2 separate regions of the Homo sapiens genome follow, and region 1 is linked to region 2. A link means that fine-mapping ties the variant in region 2 to the expression of a gene that starts in the linked region. Tissue or cell type: whole blood. Region 2 holds a variant in brackets; the other region holds the start of a gene. All regions are shown on one strand. Distances are between the middles of the regions.

What was found. PIP is the estimated chance that this variant, and not a neighbour inherited with it, causes the effect.
Region 1: it holds the start of PIGM, and the variant in region 2 is fine-mapped to the expression of PIGM in whole blood (INTERVAL, PIP 0.99).

What each region holds. Positions count from the first base shown.
Region 1 is chr1:160,027,188-160,034,989 of GRCh38, forward strand. It overlaps PIGM (phosphatidylinositol glycan anchor biosynthesis class M), which reads right to left and starts at 4,803. Exons shown (of 1, transcript NM_145167.3): 1 at 1-4,803. The coding sequence starts at 4,552. The coding sequence ends at 3,281.
Region 2 is chr1:160,005,171-160,012,972 of GRCh38, forward strand. All of the region lies in intron 3 of LOC124904436 (a long non-coding RNA gene), which reads right to left. Among named protein-coding and RNA genes, the nearest start is that of PIGM, 23 kb to the right of the region's middle. The variant G/A (reference allele first, on the strand shown) is at 4,004.

The sequences.
Region 1 (7,802 bases), 22 kb after region 2:
ATAATTTTTCCATCTTTTTCCTTTTCCATTCATAGTACAGATGGTTAGGGGAGAGGGTGGTAATGCAGAAAACAACTGATATTAGAGAAGTAACAGTAAATTCAGCCACAAGTCAACTGAAAGACAAGTTCTACACAACTTCTGAAACATCTTGTAAGAGTCCAGATGGTGAGAAGTCAGTAACTAAAATCAGTGGTTTTAGGAATTCTTTTGCCAGGAAGGAACAAAGCACTGGGTGGGAGTATTAGCCTTTCCAATGGGCCTATCAAGAGAATTTATCCAGGAATATTTAGGAACCACATTCTAAAGACGTTACAAAGGCAATTACAGAAGAAAATGTCATGTAGTTCCCTCTGTTCAGAACACACACAATCTTGAGAATCATCCCTCTTTATCTAATAATTAATGCTTACCTGCAAATGAACATATCAATCTTAAGAGGTGGTATAAGAAAAAAAGAATTATATAGGAAATAAGCCAAAGTCTTATAAAATTTGAAGGTGTTATTAAAGGATTAAAAAGGAAACAAAAGGATTGTGATAAGAAGCAAAAAAAAAACATTTTTTTTACATAACCAGAAAACAAATTAAAAAATTAAAATCCCCCAAGAAACCAAATTAACTCATTTTTTTAGTTAACTTACTAAATGTTTTGGAACATACAAAGTGCAAAATATCTTTTGCATCCCTTTAAGAAACACCTGCCTTTCTTTGGTAAAGAATTTCTTGCAGGAAAGATTCCAAAGTTTGAAGTTCCCTCCAACGATCCCAGCAGAAATGTTTCTAACTTCTAAGAATGTCCTAAGAGAATGAGCTAAAACACAGAAAATGTTGAAAGTCTTATTTAGAATATTAAAAACTGGAAGCAATCTAAAGGTCTAACAGTGGAAGAATGATGTATTTATAATGTGAATATACATGTGATGTCCAACAATTTCAATTCTAAGTATGAAGAGTAAGCCACAATAAAGAATGTTAAAAAACAATAATTAGTAAGTAAATATAATTATAAAACCAAGTCAGAAATACAAAAAAAGGGACAACTATACTGGAATGATGAAATTCGATTTCTGTTTCCTGCCTCCTCCCTTGCTGGCTCTATAATTTTTTTTTTTAATTCTTAGAATAGGAAAAAAAGGTAAGAATGCTATGGCTGGAAGGCCACTAGTAAACAAGCACATATAAAGGGTCCTCAAGACAAGACCTAATATGGGTATGAAACTAAATGTTATAAGGAAGGTCATTGTCCTCAGCAACTGACTCTGCTATTTTTACCCCAAACAGGAGCCCATACAAAACCACCCCATTCTTTCCCTCTTTCTAATGAAAGGTCCCAAAAGGTATCCATCCAAGAAGTGCTGCCAATAATAACATTGTTAATTGTGACCAGCCTATAAACATCTTATTTGCAAAGGATTTTAGGCCTGAACTGACATGAAATATAATACTGTGGAACTTTTTTTGTCTTTTTGTGAGTGTTTTCTGACTGCAAAAGAACAGTTCATCAAATTACTTATCTTTTAAAAAACACAATCACAAAATCATATTCATATACTGCTACTGTAGTATTAGGGAATCCCAAGCCTAGACAGGCTGTTTAATTAAAAAAAAAAATGTAAGGATGCTTGTTTAAACAACTCAGAAAGCATTTTTCCCCCAGAAATATTACAGTGATAAGGGAAACGATCTGACCACCTAAGCCTCAGTTCCACAATCTCCCTCTAAATTCTCTGGTCTAGAAAACCCATGGCTCTCTGGGATGCTTCTTATGCTTTTCAGGAGTTTCCCTCACAGGTCTGCATTTCTATCATGGAATTTTTGATTTTTTTTTTTAAGCTAGGAAATGTCTTACTAACAAGTTGTTTTATCACCTAAAATCTACTATTATCCATTTTTACAACATAGATAACACTTGGTTGACTTAAATTCTAGAAGAAAAAAGTCTTGCTTTAGCAATCAAAAACTTAAAAACAAAGGGGTAAGAGGATACTGAAATGTACTAATAGTTTGTGTAGGACCACAAACATTAAAGGCAAGATGATAGTTTTAAAAATGTAATAACTCAAGTCTAAACATGAATGAATTTAAATTTAATCCTTTTTGTATGAAACCAAATAGCAGTCTAATACCACTGGGACTAAGTGCTATAAAAGTAAGTAATAAAACAAATACATGAAACATGATTACAATTTAAATTCTTTGGATTATCTTTTTTTTTTTTTTTTTTTGATATGGAGTCTTGCTCTGTCGCCCAGGCTGGAGCGCAGTGGTGCCATCTCGGCTCACTACAGGCTCCACCTCCGGAGTTCACGCCATTCTCCTGCCTCAGCCTCCCGAGGAGTAGCTGGGACTACAGGCACCCACCACGCCCGGCTAATTTTTTGTATTTTTAGTAGAGAGGGGTTTCACCGTGTTAGCCAGGATGGTCTCAATCTCCTGACCTCGTGATCTGCCCGCCTTGGCCTCCCAAAGTCTTTGGATTATCTTGTAAGACCCCACATTTAATATAGAAGTTTAAAACTCTCTAAAATAATACTACTAAGCATCTTAGTATTATTTAATACTTTTCTATCTAAAAAGTTGTCCTTTCCTTTTTTTTTTTTTTTTTTTTTTTGAGACAGGGTCTTGCTCTGGGCTCAAGCAATTCTCCCACCTCAGCCTCCCATGCAGCTATGACTACAGGGGTGCACCACAACACCTGGCTAATTTTTTTTTTTTTTTTTGAGACTAGGTCTCACCATCTTGCCCCAGGTGGGTCTAGAACTCCTGAACTCAAGCGACCCTCCCACCTCAGCCTCCCAAAGTGCTGAGACTACAGGCAAGGGCCACCATACACAGTTTAAGAATATTTTTTGGATTTTCACAGCTGTCAGGAAAGCTTTAGAAAGAAAAGATGGGTGTTAAAAGTTAAGACACAGCTTAAGACAGAAGCATTGTAAAACAGGAACAAATACTGGCTTAAACCTGATGTCTCTAACTATATTCCTCTATTTTAAGAATGTTTTAGTATCTGATAGTTTCATCAGCCTTTCCATTTTCCAATATGTGACCTTTATTCCCACCATGTCCCAAATAAACGAGTCCTAGGATTTCCTAGAAGGTGGACCTCAATTATTGTGTCCCTTTTATATATAAGGCAAACATTGCTTTTAAGTTCTGTTGGAACATGGGAACTTTCACTAGAATGCTTAGAATGTTCAGAAAAAATGTCCCAAAGCTCTCTTCTGGTCCATACAAGACAATCAGAATGTAACACAGTAGCAGAGGGTGTGGAACATACACTAGTCATATTTGATTCTCTCTGTCAGGGGTTCTTCTTTGTAATGGGAAATAATTTGAATCAGGATGGAACAATTGATAAGAAGAAAGAACAAACCAGCTAACCAAATAAACAGAAAGGTGTTCTTTCCTTGAAACTCTAGAACATAGGCAGGAGCCAGCCACATGGCCTGCCCTATAAACCATAACATTAGGAGAACTACAGCTCTTTTCCAAGGCATTCTGACTAGTGGCATCACAAGAGGCAGTAAGCAGAGGTACCAAAGAAAGTACTGGGAGGTGCAGACTTTGTTAAAAGTCACAAAAATGGACGTATGAAGAAAACAACAAAAAACGAGGTCTCTGTAATAGGCGAAAGACACAGCTGAAAGCAAGATGAGCTGTGGCAGGAATGCAGCAATTCCCAGGGAAAAACTCCACTTGCTCTCTGCAGTCAAATACAGCATGTAGAAGTACGGAGAAAAGTTGTGACGGATATCCCGCCTAGTCAGGTGATAAAAGTAGGTGTGTTCCAAAAATTCCCAGCCGTACTCATAGTAAAAACCAAAGCTCAGGGCAAAAAACGTGAGTCCAGCAACTGCTACAAACAGCAGCACAGCCCGATTACACAGCCTTTTCAGGAGCTCGTACAAACAAGCCTGGAAAGTGTACCGGAATTGACGGAGGCTTTTGTCATTGTCGCGATCTGGAAGCAGGTGGAGGGTTATGGGAAGGATGTAAGTCACTGGATATATCTTCATATGCACCGCGAAACCATAGAATACAGCTGCACACGCGACGAGTCTTTTCTTTATCAAGTAGAGGACCATCAGGACCAGGGAGGCGACAATAGAGTCCGCATTACCGCGGCTGGATACTGCCATAGGCAGGGGGTTAAGAAGCCAAAAGACACAGTAGCCACAAGCCTGGCGGCGCCCCAGCCCCTTCAGCAGCAGCAGGCGGTATAAGAGGAAAGCGGTGAGGAGGTCGCAGCTGATGAAGAGAAACTTTCCAAAGAGCTCGCTGAGGTAGATGTTGGGAGTGAGGAGCCAACCCAGCAGCGGGGTGTAACGGTACGTGGCTCTCAGGTAAGGCGAGCGCCCCTCCGTGACGAAGCGCGCGGCGTCGGTGAAGACCTGGTAGTCGATGTCCGTATACCTCACGTGCAGGGTCCGGTCCTGGAAGACGCCATAGAAAACCAGGGCGACTCTGGCTAGAAAGGCCACACCAAAGACGCCGGCTGGAGCCACCTTCAAGTTCAGGAGCCATTCGCCCCAGTGCTTGGTGGAGCCCATGATCTGACCGTGCGACAGCTGCTTAGCCCCAGCTCCAAACTGCCTTCGTACTTCTAACCTTCCCTTCGGTTCTTTGCAGCAGGTGGCCGCCGCATCTCCCACCCGCCAGGCTGCCAACCGAAACGACTGCAGACTATCACATCCGGCATGAAGCCCCGCCCCCGTACTGCTACCTGTCTCCAGCCCCGCGCGGTCTTCTCAGCCGCCCGAGCCAAAAACTTGCCTTCCTCTGGATGGACGGTCTCGCTTCCGCTTCTTCTTCCAGCGGAGGCGGGATTTCCGGTCCGTGGGAGGGGAGACGTCCGCTTGCCGGGAAATCCGGCACTGGCTTGAGGATTTTATGGAGTGGAGTGAGATTTCTTTGTAAGTGACAGCCCGCCGCCCCCCGCCCTCTTCCCGCGCCCCATTTCCAGTCCTCAGAGGAAAACCCTCCGACGAGCAGCGAGCTGCGGGCTGCGCGCTACATCCTTCAGTCCTGGGCTGGAGATCCGAGAGTGAAAAATGTAGGAGTGAAAGGAAGATAAGCCTTCTCATGCTTTACTCCACTAGCTCGCCGGTATTCACCGGGGATTTGTGGGCCCCGGACAGGACAGGATGAGTTGAAGGGGGCTGAGTGTGTATGTTCCATGCAATATTGGAGGCATACTTATATTTTTAAATTACTAGTTGGTAATCAGAGATTCAGATTTAAGTGGGCAGCTTGTATTTTATCCGGCAACCCTAGGTGAAGGTGATGGGAAAGAAGACAGGAAAGCGTCACAAAATTCCTTAACTTGTCAGCCCCTTATGCCTCAGTATCTCTGTATTTGCTATTTCTTCTGTCAAAGTTGCCATCCGCTCTCCAATCACTCTGGCAAATACCTACTCAACCCTTCAGGCATCAGTGCAAGTGTTAGCTCCCAGCTCCCACTCACTTCCTCATCACGCAGAATGAATGACTTAGATGCCAGTCCCCTCCCCTGTCCGAGGATAGGTAGACTGGGGCGGACGGGATCTAAGTTCCAGAAAATCACTCACACAGAAGACCCTGCCATGCTACTAAAAGTTCTCCCAGTGCTCCAGAACTCCCTGGTCATTCCTTTGTTACAGCATTTGTCACACTGCTTTGTAATAACTGTTTTTGTTTGTTTTGCTCTCCTAGTTTTCCATCAGGACACTTTCAATTCTTCGGTATCAGAGATTATCTTGTTCTTTTCTCTACCTCAACATCTAACACAGTACTAGTAGCCATTCAGTAAAGTTGAATTGATTTTAGAGGTTCCTCCTACCAGAATATTTCTAGAGTGGCATCTTTGGATTGCTCCCAACTCCCAGTTATTTTCCCTTTTAAATATCCTTTATGTATGTCAAGGTCCCCTGCTCCCCCCACCCCACTCCAACCCTACTTCCATGAATTTCTTGCCAAGGACTGTAACCCATTAGCTCTTCCCTTTCCGTGGTTACTTAGTGCACTTACATAGTCCGCATTGTAGAATTTGATACTTTATTTTAGATTGTATTCATAGCCCTCACAAGAGATTATAGGGTTCTTGGGGGTAGAAATTATATCTTATCCTTAATTTTTTTCAATTATGTGTAATTTATTGTAGTCTTAGGCACATGGTAAATGCTTAGTAAATACTGACTAATTGGATTTTATAGAATAAGCCTGCTTCCTAGGGGAAGTCTTCTAGACTAGAATAAGGAAAAGGAGGTGACTTCATGCAGTCTGAACATGCAGCTCCCAGAACTACCTGCTGCTCATCCATCCTACACTTCAATTTATCCCTTGGAGATGAACTGTGTTAATCTTATATATTCCATATTCATATTGTGATAGCTCTATGTCCTTTTATATGCCTTGGTATCATTACATGCCTTAGATTGATAATTCTAACCATTTTTTTGCAGTATATTAGCCATATATATAGTGGCAGCACATCACCACTCATATAATGATGATTATGATGATGATGATTACTATTATTTATAATAGCTGGATTTGTTGAGGACTCATTTGCAATGTACCAGGCATTATGCTAAGTACTTTTCATGTAAGGTAGATATTCCCACCTTTACAAATGAAGAAAACCAAGGCTTATGGAGATTAAGTAATTTTCCCAAGTCACATAGCTAACTAGTGACAGTGCTAGAACTCAAAACCCAGTCTGTCTGACCTAGAATATCTTAATCATTATGTGGCTGACTTGCCAATAAAATGTTGATCACAAATTCTAATTTTCCTATGTTTTCTCTTATTGATCTCTCATCTTGATATTCTGGATATTCTCTCTCACTGTGACTCTTTCTACCTCTGATTTATTCTTTTCTTCTGCAAATAATAGATAAGTGAGGCTTAGTTCCCTAAGATAGAAAATATGGGAGGTAGGTGTCTGAGGATTAACTAAGTAAGGGTCCTTGTGGCTGGATTGGTTTCAGTAGTATAGCAGAAAGGTTTCAGTCAATCTGTCCCTACATGGCTGTCCTAGTAGAGAGATGGGAGGCACCAAATTTAGGCAGATAAGGAAACAACTAATAAAAAAATAAAATAAAAAAAAAACTAAGCATGTCACTGAAGTCAAAGGAGTGAGATGTAGATAGCAGTTGTGGGAACGAAGAAGAGACTGGAATCTGTAAAACAAATTGGACAGAGAGGTCCAACTTTAGTTACTATTTCTGGGTGGAAGAGATACATCACAGGGTCCGAGGACCCCATATTGAACTTTTTGCATTGGGTTTAGGGATTGTATTTTCTCACCTCTTTCTGAAAGAGTTACATTTTTTTCAAATGCTCAACTGTTCATTACCTCTCGGACTGTTACTTACAATCCTTCTTAATTCCCCCTTTCACTATCTGCTCCTAGATTTCTATCCTTTTAGAGCCAATGACTAAGGAAAGCACAAACATGGATCGCTCAACTTTAGTTTCCCTAGCAGGAACCTTGTCCTTGTTCACTATGCTGCATATACTCTCATTACCCTTCCATATCCACTATTCATCTTTTTTGCCCTGTTCTGTGTTCCAAGAGGTTAGGCTGTATGGGTAGCATCACTCAATCTCCCTTGTTCTCTGGCTTCCCATTAGAATAGACCAGTGGGAGGCACTAGCAGATCTTTGGCAGTGTCTGGAATTCCTCACCTAAAGCCATGGCTCCTGTTGAAGCTATAGCTCTCTCCTTTGGGTACAAGTCTCATGGTTCCAGTAACTGTCCCTTCAGGTTTAAGGCTGGTAAAGGCGTCCTACTTTGCGAGTGCCTGGGTACATCACCAT
Region 2 (7,802 bases):
TCACTGGATGGCAGGGGATGCTGGTCGACTGCCCAGTGCCACCAGATGGCCGTGTTCTAGCCTGCTTCACTTGCCCTCTCTCTTCCCAGAAGGAAGCCCTCAAAGACGCCAGGCCAAGGGTCCAGGCGCCATCCCTAAGCAACCAGGCAATCATATCTGGGAGTGCCAGAACACACTGTCACTGGAGAGAGAAAAGCCACAGACTGGAAACCTAGCTTTCTTCTCTTGCCTGTCAGAAAGTGTCCTCTGAGTTACCAGCAAGCCTGCTCTTTTCCCAGAGGGTGATCTCTTTTCTCCCCTCATGTTCAGGCAGAGATACCTGCTTGGAAGTCTCAGAGTTCCTCCAATGGTAACTTTCCAAGGAGGGAAAAGTCGACCCGCACTACTACTTAGCCTGAAACATAGCTCTCCCTAGGCCTAGATGGGGAGGAATCATGCAGCCTGCCCACCCTGTGTTTTCCAATCCAGACCTATGACATTTTATAGGCAGCAAGACATTTTACAGACTGCAAGCGAGGCGAATAAAACGGCCTGTTTTTGAAGATTTGGGAAGCAGGTAAAAGTCTAGGAGCTTGGCAGCTATGAGGTCAGAAAGGTCTTTGTACAAACAGTTTTGTAACTTAAAATAATTCCTACACTCCCAGGTCACCTCCCATATAGTCAGTCAGAGCCCAGGTGAGCTAAACCTTCACCCTACTCTCTGGGTTATCGTGTGTCCCAGGCCCGAGGCCGAGTTTGCCTTCAGCAACTCCCTCTTCCTCCAACTTTCTCCCTCATCCCCCTCTCCCCTTACAGTAAACTTAGGACTCCACATTTTTTGGAAGTGTAGCTCAGGTCACATTATAATTTTCATGGGCCTTAGCTACTCTGGCCTTAGAGAGCCTCACCTCCATAATTTTTTTTTTTTTTTTTTTTTTTTTTTGTGACAGGATCTCGCTCTGTCACCCAGGCTGGAGTGCATTGGTGCCATCATAGCTCACTGCAGCCTTGAACTCCTGTGCTCAAGCAATTCTCCTGCCTCAGCCTCCCATGTATCTGGGATTACAGGTGCCTGCCATCACACCTGGCTAATTTTTTTTTTTAATTTTTAATTTTTATTTTTGTAGAGATGGAGTCTGGCTGTTTCCCAGGCAAAATGTAATGTAAGCTGGATTCCTTATTATATTCATTATTCTTATATTTATTTTTTCTTTGTATTTCAAAAGAACTTAAAATTAAAACATTTTCATGGGTACCAGTAAGTATCATGGCCCCAGATGGTGTGCCTCCTGAATGGGTAGTTGGCCCAGATGTAACTCACAGCACCCCACCTGCTCAGAAGATGCACAAACCTGCCTGCGCCCTCTGTCGGCAGCAGCAGTAGAGGCCTTCAACCTCTACTTCAAAGTGTAGACCCACAACACTTTGAATTATTCTTTCAGCTAACAATTTATCAGAGCAACCGACATCATAAGGTCAAGTATTCATGAATTCCCACTCCATTAAAGCCTTCACTTAGCAGCCTATACATGTATTCGGTGAATATGAATGTTCCCAATGAAAATATTTGCCTAATAAATGAATCGACTAAATCAAAACATTAAAACTGTGTGGTTGAAAAGTTATGAAAACATCCATATTTAATTATTAAATTATATTTTAACTACATCAATCAAATCATTACTTAAACACATCATTTGCTGAAATTTTGCACACTTATTCTAGAATACTTTTATAAACAGAAAAAAATAAAGATAAAAGTTTCAAATAAACTGGATTATTTAGCCTGCTAAATTACAAAGTGAAGGGTTATTTTGTATTTCATCAGTTTGATAAATTTGAATAGGGACATATCACATTTCCCCAAGTGGGGAGGGACACACCTGTAAAAGATTTAGAACAGGCATGTCTTGTTTTACATAAATACTTGTATTATGAAATTGTAAAACATAATCAGAGAACCAAATAACTTGGCCTCTTAAGTCCCATTTTTAAAATGGAAACTTGGACTAGTTAGTACTTTCCAAGCATTTTTAGTTATAAAAATGCCTTCGTAAAGTGAAATGGTCATAGTTAATAATGACAGTTAATCTTTGTGTTTTCACATATCGTCTCATTTCATCCTTACAACACCATATGATCAGTGTCATTATGTTACAGCTGAGGGAAGTGGGGCTAGACGAGGTTAAATAACATACTCAAGATCAGACAGCTAATGAATGAACCAGAACTCAGACCCAGTTGTGTTGAACTTCAAATCTCATGCCCTTCAATCCCTCAGACTCCTCTCTATGAAGTGGAAGGGGAGGTTTTGCCAATTGAATAGAAGTTAGGGGCTCCTCACAGCCCCACTAACTCCACTTCTCATCCAGGGAACTCAACTTGAAAAACATCCCTTTTTTCCTATCAAAAAAGATTTCAAGTAAGAGTTTTGCCTTTATAGCAGGTCGAATAACTCTTGATTTGATAAAACTTTTATCAAGCTTAAGATACAATTTTTAAAATTCTCATAGTTCTTTTGTGTCTCCCAAACAGATCCAGTGATTCCCAGAAGTCTGCAGACCCCACCCCAATTAAGAAATTCAAGCAAATTTCAGACAGGTGGCCACATGCACAATAATATGGCATATAGTGACATCTATTGGTCAATTGTGATATTGCATCCAACTTCCTTTCACAGGAAATTTAACAGGAGCTGGTTGATGTGGAATTATACTAGTCTCAGGTATAAATCAAAATAAGAAAAATTCCTTTCATACAGAGAAAGCAGAAGGGAGATCTTGGAATCTCCATGTTCAGTTAAAGGTCTGAGTCCTAGTCCTGATTTTACCATAAATAACTTGGTATAGACTTGGTTAAGTCACTTGGTCTCAGGAGCCTCATCTTCAATCAAACAGGGTCACGCCCTCTCAGAGGCCCTCAAAACACTAAAGGACACCCTCAGGGCCCTCTAGGAAAGGCAGAGTCAAGTGAGTGTGGCTACTGTCTTCACTCCCACATCTAGGCACATCTATTATTATCTTTTCATAAGCGAATTTTCTTCTTAAAAGTTTCAAAAATATTCTGTTTCTACTATTCGGACCTGGTCAGCCCATGTCAACATTTACTGTACCCCGCACATTTTAGGGTCCTGTACTAAATCTATTCTTGTTTAGTTTTGTTTTGTTTTACAGACAGGGTCTCACTCTGTCGCCCAGGCTGGAGTGCAATGGCACGATCACAGCTCATTGCAGCCTCAAACTCCTGGGCTCAAGCAATCTTCCCACTTTGACCTCCCAAGTAGCTAGGATTACAGGCATGAGCCACCAGGTCAGTCCGATGTACTGAATCTTTGTAATCTACAAAAATAGGAATCTAGCTCCCTTCCCTTTAAGAACTTACAATTTAGTTGTGGAATAAAACAAACACATCATCTACTCATTCTTTAACTAAGCATTTTTGTCAAATCAATTGGAAGATTTTCTTCCATGAGATCATATCTCTGATTTTATAAAACAAGTCAATGAGAGAGAGAAAATTCTTTTTATAGTCAATCTTGCTGGAAGGCATCTTTACCATAAAATAAATGTTTCAGGAGTCTCTTGGGAAGAATTCATGATGCAGTTGAGATCCACTGTCATCACTATGTAACAGTGTTCCTTCTCATGGGAATTGGATGAGATTAAGAGACTTTGTGAATATTCTCTGTTGTGCTTAAGCAAAGTTTATAAGGCTCTTGGTGTCCCAACCAAGAATACAGGCTTTGTATAGGCAAGAAGGGGAGGCATAAGATATCTGTAAATTTCCCACTAAAAGCTCATCTTCACTTAGAAACCAAATTGTTTGATTATTAAGCATTTCTATTCAAGAATAGAGAGAAATTTACTCCTCAATGATCCAAATAAGGTAATAATGTCATAAATAATGATTGATTAAGCACTTACTCTAGCCCTGAAACTCTCCTAACAGTTTTACCTCATTTAATTTTCACATCTCTAAAAAGTACATTCTATTTTTATCATCATTTTAGAGAAGAGGAAACTGA[G/A]GCACAGAGTTATAAAATAACTGAGGAAGTTATGATTAGCTAACTCCACTGATCCAGATTGCCTGCCCTTGCGAAAGTTGTAAAAGGAGGTCATAACAGTACCCCTCCCCCACAGGCTACCGGTTACCCCCAAGGACTTTGCTGTAGGCACAGCCTGCACCCAGCTCTGGGCTCAGGGACTTTCTGGACAATTGCACAAGGTCAGGAGTGGCATGGGCAATGCCTGAATAATTGCCCAGCCTTTTATGTTAGAAAAAAAAGAAAAGAAAAAGAAAGTGAAGTTCTTTAGGCCTGTCTCTGTCTCATAGCACTCTGCATAATCTGTCTTATTGTGGTCAAAATGCAATATGTACACTACTTTAGAAGCTTATCAAATCAGAGATGTTCTCTTGCTCAGGTTGGGCCCGACTGAATGATATCGGGGCAAAGTGATGAGAGTTTCAAGACTCCAACAGACATAAAAGAATAAAAGAGTTATTTCATTGTCCCATTTTTCCTCTACCCTAGAAAGTCCAAGAAACACTTGATTGTAATGTGTACAGTTTCCAGATTTTGACCGAAGATAAAGTTATTTTCAAATATCTGAGAAATCTAAGACCACGTTCCCTACCCTACCTTCCCCCTGTCCTCAAGTTAAAGACCCATGGACCACAGCCAAGCCCCTGGGCAAAGCTGGATAACTCTCAAAGGGGAAGTATTCTGACCTTTCAATTATATTCCCGAGAATGAGGATGATAAGCTTGAGTCCCCCAATCATAACTCACTGCCATCTTAGACCTGCTGAATGGACAGGTCTGCTCTGACAGATAGATTATGAGGCACGCAAAGAACAAAGAACCTTTCTCTGAGGAATTTCATAATCACTGTGTCTTTTCTTCTCCTTCCTTTAACATGTGTAATTTATCTTCTCTTGGAAAGGTGCATATAAATTTTAATGCAATTTGCTTAAGAACAATTAACAAAGTCACAATTTGAGAATCCTATTTGTTTCCCAGGAGAAAGGGAAACATCTGAACTGCATGCTGAGTACTAAGGAGACTTCAGGCCCTTAAAGAGGAATTTAACTAGAAGGTATCCCTGATTTGTCAGGCCCTTAAGACAATAAAACATATCTGTGTGATCATAAGACAGCCCCATCCTTCAACACTGACTAAAAAGCCTTAGGTGACATTGAACAAGCAGGCACATATCTCAGGACTTCAAGATTAGAGAGATGGAGCCCTCCATCTCTAGTCAAATAAAACACTAGTCACAGAATTTCTGTAAAGGAAGAGTATTAAGGACATTGTCCAATCTCCAGTTCTACGTACTTTCCCCTTCCACAATGTGTTTGGCAAATGGTCAGACTCCCTTTCTATTGTCCAGAGGCTAGGAGGAAAAGATTATCTTATTCCACATTAGAAACAAATGCTTATCCCCCAGGTGGCTATAAATCCCAGGTGGCATTCAGGTAGTTTCCCTTGTAACCTGCTGATGCAGCTGAAATTTTCTCAAGTATGGATTGGAAAAAAGAAGCTGCCTATCCATCTCTACCCTCCTTGCTAGGCTCTGGGAGGCATGCTGAATGCACAAAAGGCCCACTTTTCAACTTGAGAGTCAATACAAGTGGAATAGCCAGTGTTTCCAATTCAGCATGACAATCTGAGTCAATGCATTTAACACTCTCCCTTCGTAACTTGCAGCTGAAATGACCTATGCAAAAGAAGAGGACAAACACTCCACTCCTTGGTGTGACGGGACCAGAGATGAGTGACGATCATAAGACTGTCATTTTGTTGAGGGCAGTGTCAAATTCAAACTCCACCACCACCTTGAGAAGGAAACAGGTGCTGGAGCTCTCAAGGAGGGCCGGGTGGTCCCAGGGATGCTCAAGACTTGTTCACAGCACAGAAGGCATGGAGAATGGAGCAGAGGTTCTGATGAGGTTTGCTCTTGGGGAGGGCCGCCATGCTGGCTGGAGGGGTACTGCTGCCTGCCCCGGTGGGCTTCAGCTGCTGTGACAATCCCAGGAGGAGCCCTTCAGCCAGAGATGAGGCTGCCTACCTATGGCCACCTCTCTTCTTACTTCTCATACACCAAGACACTTCTAAGGTGGTTAAGGTCAACAAAATATAAACTTATTTCCTGTGCCAAGACTGAAAGGCTTTCACAGGGATGCATAATCTCTGAGAGAACACTTACCCATTCCCATGCTGGACAGGCATAAGCCTCCCATTGTAAGGATGAGAAAATGGAGGAAAATGACCACATATAGAAATAATGGGGCCAATATGAGGAGTGCCAGACAAACTTAATAAAATAATATTTATCTGGATTTATTCTAGCAAATTAGATTAAGAAGGATATTATTAGGGTTTATTAAGTAGTGTTAGACATTGGTAGGATTCATAATAAAAATACATACATGGCTTAAACTATGTGAAGCATATAAACCCTTAGAAAAATCTCTTATTATAATGTATTAAATTTAGAGAAGTCACAGGATAATATCAATAGATATTGAAGAGTCATTTGGTCTGATGAAATTCCACATATATTACTGATATTAATACAAAATCAAAACATCAGAGAACTATAAAAAGTATACTTCCTTGACACAATAAAAAAATGCTTACTTCATACCTAAAAGTCAAGCACAAGGGGCATTCCCATTAAAATTAGGTACCGTATAAAGATGCCTGCTATTATGAGCCTTGTGTTAGTCAAGGTTCTTCAGAGAAACAGAGCCAGTAGGATATGAGAGGGGATTTATGAGGGAATTGGCTGCTCACATGACCACAGAGGCAAAGTCCCACGACCAGCCACCTGTAAGCTAAAGAGAACCAGGGAACTCAGAACCAGGGAAGCTGACCGTGCAGCCTCCAGTCTGGGGCCAAAGGCCTGAGAGCCCTGGGAGGTCACTGGTGCAAGTCCCAGAGTCCAAAAGCCAAAGAACCTGGAGCCTGATGTCCAAGGGCAAGAGGAGGAAAAGCCTCCCACTCCAGAGGAAAGACAGCAGAGACAGAGAATCTGCTGTCTTTCTCCTGTTTGTTCCAACCAGGCCCCCAACCAGTTGGACAATGCCTGCCCCCATCGAGGGCAAGTCTTCTTCTCTCAGTCCACTGACTCACCCACCAATCTCTCCTGGAAACAGACACACCCAGAAACAAACCAGCCATTTAGGCATCTCTCAATCTCCTCATGTTAAAAATTAAAGTTAAAATTAACAGTCATAACGATTATTCAAAATGTGAGAAATTTTTAGGCAACTGTAATAAGGCGAGAAGAAAGAATTAGAAAGTATATATTTTGGAAAGAGAAGATAAAATTATAATTTTTTGCATGATGATATAATTACTTGAAACCCCAAGAAAATTAGCCACAAAACAGTTAGTACTAATTAGAGAATTCGTGTAATGTGTCCAATTGCAAAATAAATATACAAAACTTAATAGCATCCTGAAATGCCTTCAGGGATTAGGCAGACAACAAAAATGAATAAAGTACACTGGTGGGGACCTTTCCTGATGATGGGAAGCAATTGCCTCCCAGCTCCTGCACATTTTTGTCAAGGGAGACTGTGAGTCTAGAGTTGCCAGATATTCTGATTTTTAAGGAGAATTTGTAAAAACAGATTCTTGTATAAAACTTTCTGATTTTTAGATGCAGATAACTAATTCAAAAATATTCTGAACTAAATATATTCATAGGCTAGATATGGCCATGGGCCTCCAGTGTGCAACTTTTGATCAGTGCTTCCCTTTATAATTAATCTGCAAATATAGCAGAAGTAATGTGAAATGGTATAAAAAATTGATTA